2 separate regions of the Homo sapiens genome follow, and region 1 is reported to be linked to region 2. The links are microRNA targets in miRTarBase. Many come from high-throughput screens and were not tested one by one. Region 2 holds a microRNA gene; the other region holds the end of a gene's coding sequence.

Region 1 (4,000 bases), not on the chromosome of region 2:
ATTTATGTTTAAGAGATGAGGTCTTGCTTTGTCATCCAAGCTAGAGTGCAGTGGCATGATCATAGCTCACTTCAGCCTCAAACTCCTAGGCTCACACAGTCCTCCTGCCTCAGCCACCCAAATAGCTGGGTGCTATGTGTGTGCACAACCAGCCATGTGTACACAACCATATCCAGCTAATTTTAAAATTTTTGTAGAGATAAGGTATCACTCTGTTGACCAGGGTGGTCTCAAACTCCTGGCCTCAAGTGATCCTTCCACCTTAGCCTCTCAAATAGCTGAGATAACAGGCAAGAGCCACCACACCTGGCCCTATTTTTATATAAGATCACATTCTGAGGTACTGGGGTCTGGGCTTTTTAACATATGAATTTTGAGAGGACACAGTTCAACCCATAACAGATGGGAAGCTTGAGAGGGGTGACAGTGGAGGGAGAAGGAACATGCAGAAGCTTCCATCAGACTGTTGTTCTTTCCTGACCTTCCTACTTTCTGTCTCCAGATCTTTTTCCTCCATCTCTGTTATGACTAAGAGAGGATTTCGCTCCCCCAATTTTTAGAAATACCTTTTCGCTGACAAATGATGGGACTCTTTTCCAATGTCTGTCTTTTAAAAATGCTTCGATAGGTGTTGTTTCCATTCTCACCTCTACACTAATACCCTCAAAGTATTTTTAAGGACTTTCACAACAGGGACCAGGACTCAAGTTTCTGCTCTTTCATAATGGTACCACCTTTTTCTTCTTCCTTCCTCCCTCCGTCACTCCTTCCATACCTCCCTCTCTGCCTGCCTCCCTCCCTCCCTCCCTTCCTTCCTTCCTTCCCTCCTTCCTTCCTTCCTTCCTTCTTTCTTTCCTTCCTTCTTTTTCTCTTTTTTTGAGACGGAATCTTGCTCTGTCGCCCAGGCTGGAGTGTAGTGGCATGATCTCGGCTCACTGCAATCTCCGCCTCCTGAGTTCGCGCCATTCTCCTGCCTCAGCCTCCCGAGTGGCTGGGACTACAGGCGCCCGCTACCATGCCCGGCTAATTTTTTGTATTTTTAGTAGAGACAGGGTTTCAACATGTTAGCCAGGATGGCCTCGATCTCCTGACCTCTTGATCCGCCCGCCTCGGCCTCTCAAAGTGCTGGGATTACAGGCGTGAGCCACCGCGCCCGGCTCCCTCCTTCTTTTTCTTTCCCCTCCCTCCCTCCCTCCCTCCCTTCCTTCCTTCCTTTTTCTTTCCCCTCCCTCCCTTCCTTCCTTTCTTTTTTCCTTCCTTCCTTCCTTTTTCCCCTTCCTTCCTTCAATCTTTCCTTTTTTTTGAGACAGAATCTCACTCTGTCACCCAGGCTCGAGTGCAGTGGCACAATCTTGGCTCACTGCAACCTCTGCCTCCCCAACCCAAGTGATCCTCCCATAGCAGCCTCCTGAGTAGCTGGGACTACAGGTGTGTGCCACCATTCCTGGCTAATTTTTGTATTTTTTTTTTTTTTTTTTTGGTAGAGATGGGGTTTTGCCATGTTGTTCCAGGCTGGTCTTGAACTCCTGGGTTCATGCCATCCACCTGCCTTGGCCTCTCAAATTGCTGGTATTATAGGCATGAGCCACCACATCCCCTTTTCTTTCCTCTCTTCCCAGTGCTAAATGTACAGCAGGATTAAATCAAAGGCCTTTTAACTGGCTTCAGATGATTCTTCCCCTGCCCCAACCTTAGAAACAGAATGGAGATTCATGTGATGCAACAAATCATTATACTTTATTATTTCTTGTGAACAAAATATTTTCCAGAGGTCAGTGTTATAAGTAATAATATTGGAATCAGTGAAAACAATCAGTATAGACCAAATTTTTTAAAATGATAATTTCTCAAAAATATATGTCTTGAGGTCATTGAACATTATCTATAAGCAACTGATCTTGGGAAAACATAATTTTTGAAGAACTCTCTCATCCTATGACAGTATGACAGTGACCTAATGTGAATGAATAAAATATATTTCTTTTCTTTTTTTTTTGTTTTTGAGACGGAGTCTCGCTCTTTCACCCAGGCCGGACTGCAGTGGCGCTATCTCGGCTCACTGCAAGCTCCTCCTCCCGGGTTCATGCCATTCTTCTGCCTCAGCCTCCTGAGTAGCTGGGATTACAGGCCCCCGCCACCGCGCCTGGCTAATTTTTTGTATTTTTAGTAGAGACGGGGTTTCACCTTGTTAGCCAAGATGGTCTCGATCTCCTGACCTCCTGATCTGCCCACCTTGGCCTCCCAAAGTGCTGGGATTATAGGCATGAGCCACCGCACCCGGCCAATAAAATATATTTCTGTAGTTGAATTGAAAATAGATATATCTCTATTGCTGAATTCTAATAATCTTATTCACTCTTTAAATTGTACATACAGGAAAATTACCAGAGTTCTTTTGAACTTGCTTTCTCAAAATTCATATAAAATTCTCAAAATTCATATAAGCTATCCAAGTAACACTATTAAAGTCTTAAGTACAATAATCTTATAAAGCACCTTGTTTCAATATATCTCCCAAGTTAAGAAGAAAAGCCAATATATGGCTTCTCTTTTACTATTTTACAAGGCAGGGTTTTATTTGTATATGTTGGTTGTTTCAAGCCTTTTCACGTAATAGTGGTTCTATAATCAATGTAGGCAAGATTGACAGTAAGATGTGTAAGTATGGATCAGCAGCCATGTTGAGACTCAGGCCCTTTAAGGATGCAAGAGAGATCCAGTTAAGTTTTCATTCCTCAGGTTGGATAAAAACTAAACATACATACATTGGAGGGAAACAAACACCAACATTATGATGGCTTTGTTGACCACTGTGGTGTTTAGCTCTATTTTAAGACTTTTCTACATGTAGCCCTCTCAACTCAAGGTGCAGCAAATCACTTCCTTGTTAATAATGTGTGTGTGGATCTTATCTTGGCTGTGTCTGTTTTGTAACCAATGGTCCAAAGCCTCAAGGCCACTGCCAGCACACTGCCACATGCACTTCGTTGTCCTGTTAACCCTTAAAGAACTCAGATTACCAACGCTACTACCCAGATTCATAAATTACTTGTTGTCATATGTTGCCTTTGATGTCTTTTCTGAAGTGTAATTTTTTTCTGTCTGGAATCTAGAAGATACTGATCTGAAAAAATTAGTTGATAATTTCCTAAGAGTTATTTCAACAGATTTTAATATTTTTACTTCAATGTGACTGAGTCAAAGTCATTTACACTGCACAAACATTAAACATGTTTCCATCATTATTTCTTCTCAGGATGGTAAAACCCTCTCTCTTCATTTTCACATCTAGGGGACTACCCATTGCACCGTCTTGGCACTCGTGGGAGTGAAAAATCTGTTCAGGAACTCCCTGCAGTCAGTATTCATCATGAAATGGGTATTCAGGATGATCGCGCCACCTGCCAAAACAATTCCCCCACAGAAAAAAGTTCACTCAAAAATTGCACAGCTGTATGTTTCAATAGCATCCTTTGAGAATTTCACTGACCACTACCCCTCTCTCCTATTCATTCCTCTGCTGTTTCTTACCTACTTTCCTCTTCTGTTTTCCCTCAAGCCAGCACCTTTTCCTGAAGCTCTGGACAGCCTCCTGAATGTGAGTGTGTTGAGGGAAGGTTGGTGGCCACCTTATCAACATTTTACTCAGAACAGAATCCCCAGTGGTGAATCATGTCTTAGGCATGTCATGTGCACATGCCTCTTCCCTACTCCTTCCCCCTTTCTGTTCCCTTGACGCTGGCTGCCTCCTTCTCCAATCCACTACATGGGCATTTCTCTTCAAAACTCTTATTACCAGTGTCACCCTCTGCTGATTAGCATTTTTTTCTTCTTTTTTTTACAGATGGAATCTCACTCTGTCACTCAGGTTGGAGTGCAGTGGCATGATCATAGCTCACTGCAGCCTCAAACTCCTGGGCTCCCAAGCAAGCCTCCTGCCTCAGCCTCCCAAGTAGCAGGGATTATAGGTATGTGCCACCACGGTTGCCCAAGCTGAACT
Region 2 (4,151 bases):
GGGGTGGAGAATGTGTCATTTTGTTAGCCTCTGGAAACCCACTGGCTAGAACATTGCCTAGGGCACAGAAAACACTTAAAACTTGTATAAATGAATAAAAACACACCATCCTGTCTTTCTCCTTGAGTTTTATCCTGATACTGTAAACTGCCCATTTTCAAAATACTGATCTTGTGCTCAGTCTCTTCTAGTAAACCAACCTTTGAAGCTTCATAGCATCAATTTTTTAAAAGGTATCAGGTACTATCAGAGTAAGGACTTCTTATAACTTCTGATTCCTAAAGACATCAGAATGTTGCTGCACTGAGCTTTTCAATACCCATAACTCCTGGTAGTAACCTCAAGAAGAGTTAGGGCTTATTCTGATAAAAATACAAGAACAAAAAATAAAAGCATTTTACAAAATATTGTCTCAAGGATAAATTACCAATTAGAATATGAAAAGGACTTCTAAAAAGACTGAAATGTCTTCAACCACAAATGTGACAGATTCATGAAACATTTGCTGAACATCAGCCATGTACAGAGCGCTATACTAAAAGAATATAAAAGCTGTTTGAAATATACCATATAAATATGATGTCTGCTATAAACTAATATTGACATTGTATCTTTCCAACCTTTTTAGACACATCTTGTTTCAATTCTTGTACAGGGGACTCATTTCCAACTTTGTATGCAGTGTTCTCTGTTTCCTGTTTGAAAAAGAAAAGAAATAGAGACCAAATGATGACATCTTTTCTTTAAAAATATGCTTTAAAGGGGTACAAATGAGAAAATGTAGCATTAATAAATCAAAGGCCCTTAAAGGGCTTTGATTTCTTCTTCTTCTTTTTTTTTTTTTTTTTTTTTTGAGACAGAGTTTTACTCTGTCACCCAGGCTGGAGTGCAGTGGCACAATCCTGGCTCACTGCAACCTCTGCTTCCCGGGTTCAAGTGATTCTCCTGCCTCAGCCTCCCGAGTAGCTGGGATTATAGGCGCGTGCCACCACACCTGGCTAATTTTTGTAATTTTAGTACAGACAGAGTTTCACCTTGTTGGCCAGGCTGGTCTTGAACTCCTGACCTCAAGTGATCTACCCACCTCAGCCTCCCAAAGTGCTGGGATTATAGGTGTGAGCCACTGTGCCCAGCCTAAAGGGCTTAGATTTCTGAATACTGATAGATGCTCAGAAATTTTATGCCAAATGGGACAATGTAATTTGCATAAGAAAGTTACCCATCAGCAATATTCTATTATTCTGCAATAGGATATTTACCTTTAAATGTGAAAACTTGCTCAACTTTTTAACATTAAAAAACTGTAATGGACGATAAGAACTTCTACGTACTTTTATAGCTAAAAAGGATTAAGGATTTAAGCAAGGGGCTGAATAAAAATTGTTATTTTCCCCAAAGCATTGCTCCATAAATATGCACAAATACAAAAGTTTATAACACAGAAAACCACATTCAGGGAATAGTTTTCTTAAAATTCTACATGCTTTAGATAAAAGAAATCAAGACTTAACCAGAAGTTAAATGAAGCCCCTAAAAAAACTATGAAAAAAGATGAAAAAAATTAAACCCACCAAAAATACATATATATCTACGTATACATTTATATACACATACGTACATATATATATATATTTGGGAGGTTAGAAATGGATACTGCATTTCTGCTGGAAAAAATTAGGGTAAAATAAGACAATCATATATTTGCAAATCTCAATACAATACTCTTCTCAATCTTAAGTTGTCTATTTATAGAAGCACAGCAATTTGAATGCTACTCTTGATACTGAGGAAAAAAAACCATAATTCTTTGTGCACATCACAGAGTTTGTTAGAGGAAGGTCATTATAACCATTTTAGACAGATAAAGGACTCAAGGCACATTAATTATTTAGGTGGCACTTATACAAGTATCAGGATATGATCACAATAGGCTCAATAATGAAATTACTCCAGAGATTATTAAAATGTTAAAGATTTAACGTGCCAGTGAAATTTCTGTAGGACTTGCAATATCTTCGAGCACTGAATTCCTCCCCCAGAATTTGGAGAATACTACCAATCTTACACAGATTCTTCTAGAAAAAAAAAAATGTTTCATGGACTCTTAAGTATTAGATAAAATCCAAACAGTACCAAGGCCCATGAAGGCCTAAACATGACATAGCCTCTGCCTACATTTTTGATATCTTCTACACTCCTCATCTCCCTCTCATATCACTCCCCCACAATTACATTCTGGCCAATAGGATGATTCCTTGCCATTAGGGTCATAGCTCAAGTGCTATTTTATCAGAAAATACTTCCCTGACCATCTCAAAATAGCCTTAGCTGACTCCTTAACTTTCTATCACATTATCCTATTTTTCTTTTTTTTTTTAACTTTAAGTTCAGGGGTACATGTGCAGATTTGTTACACAGGTAAACTTGTGTCATGGGGTTTTGTTGCACAGATTATTTCATCACCCAGGTATTAAGCCTAGTACACATTAGTCATTTTTCCTGATCCTCTCCCTCCTCCCACCCTTCACCCTCTGATAGGCCTCAACATGTGTTGTTCCCCTCTATGGGTTCATGTGTCCACATCATTTAGCTCCCACCTATAAGTGAGAACATGCAGTATTTGGTTTTCTGTTCCTGCATTGATTTGCTAAGGATAATGGCCTCCAGCTCCATCCATGGCCCTGCAAAGGACATGATCTCGTTCTTTTTTATGGCTGCATAGTATTCCATGGTGTATATGTACTACATTTTCTTTATCCAGTCTATCATTGATGGGCATTTAGGTTGATTTCATGTCTTTGCTATTGTGAATAGTGCTGCAATGAACATGTGTGTGCATGTGTCTTTATAATAGAATGATTTATATTCCTTTGGGTATATACCCAGTAATGGGATTGAGGAGAGGATGTCAAACTATCCCTGTTTGCAGACAACATGATCTTATATCTAGATAACCCATAGTCTCAGCCCAAAAGATTCTTAAGCTGATAAACAACTTCAACAAAGTCTCAGGATACAAAATAAATGTGCAAAAATCACTAGCATTATTATACACTAATAACAGCCAAGCAGAGAGCCAAATCAGGAATAAACTCCCATCATTTGCAATTGCCACGAAAAGAAAATACCTATGAATACAGCTAACTAGGGAGGTGAAAGGAGAACTACAAACCACTGCTCAAAGAAACCAGAGATGACACAAACAAATGGAAAAACATTCCAAGCTCATGGATAGGAAGAATCAATATCGTTAAAATGGCCACACTGCCCAAGGCAATGTATAGACTTAATGCCATTACTATTAAACTACCACTGAGATTCTTCACAGAACTAGGAAATTTTATTTTAAAATTCATAGGGAACCAAAAAAGAGCCTGAATAGCCAAGGCAAATCCTAAGCAAAAAGAACAAAGCTGGAGGCATCATGCTACCCGACTTCAAACTATGCTACAGTGCTACAGTTACCAAACAGCATGGTACTGGTACAAAAAGAGACACACAGACCAATAGAACAGAATAGAGAATACAGAAATAAGACCGCACACCTACAACTATCTGATCTTCGACAAACCTGATGAAAACAAAGAATGGGGAAAGGCTTCCCTACTCAATAAATGGTGCTGGGAAAACATTATCCTATTTTCCTTCATTGCACTTATCGTTCGAAATGACCTTATTTACTTGCTTATTTTTTGTCTCTTCCCTGTCCCACTAGAATGTAAGCTCCATGAGAGATGGACCTTGTTTGTTCTATCTACAGTTTGTTCAGTACCTAAAACAGTGTCCAGCACTAAATAATCATTTGCTGAATGAATGTTGAATGATGCATGCTCTGTTTTTTCTTCAGTTAATACATACATCTTAAGTTTACATAGGCTTTAATTGGATCCTGGTTTTATATGAAAGAAGGCCGGGCACAGGCTGAAACCCGGAGTTTGAGACCAGCCTGGGCAACACAGTGAGACCTCGCCTCTAAAAAAAATAATAATTAGCCAAGCATGGTGGTATGTGCCTGCAGTCCCAGCTACTTTGGAGGTTGTTGTGGGAGGACTACTTGAGCCTAGGAGCCTGAGGCTGCAGTGAGCTATGATAATGCCACTGCATTCCAGCCTGGGGAAGAAAGCAAGACCCTGTCTCAAAAAAAAAAAAAA

The links. Region 2 holds the annotated microRNA hsa-miR-1277-5p (AAAUAUAUAUAUAUAUGUACGUAU, at 1,611-1,634, opposite strand). A microRNA usually pairs through its seed, bases 2 to 8, with sites in the 3' UTR of a target mRNA and lowers its output. Matches are read on the target gene's strand: a 7mer-m8 pairs with bases 2 to 8, a 7mer-A1 pairs with bases 2 to 7 and ends in A, and an 8mer does both.
Region 1: the mRNA of AKR1D1 is a reported target of hsa-miR-1277-5p. Seed matches in the 3' UTR shown: 7mer-m8 at 2,535-2,541, 7mer-m8 at 2,505-2,511, 7mer-m8 at 2,289-2,295, 7mer-m8 at 1,972-1,978 and 7mer-m8 at 1,853-1,859.

What each region holds. Positions count from the first base shown.
Region 1 is chr7:138,116,021-138,120,020 of GRCh38, reverse strand. It overlaps AKR1D1 (aldo-keto reductase family 1 member D1), which reads right to left. Exons shown (of 9, transcript NM_005989.4): 9 at 1,716-3,401. The coding sequence ends at 3,359. Among named protein-coding and RNA genes, the nearest start is that of MIR4468, 5.7 kb to the left of the region's middle.
Region 2 is chrX:118,383,884-118,388,034 of GRCh38, reverse strand. It overlaps MIR1277 (microRNA 1277), which reads right to left and starts at 1,641; the gene lies at 1,564-1,641. WDR44 (WD repeat domain 44) reads right to left here. Exons shown (of 20, transcript NM_019045.5): 3 at 621-695.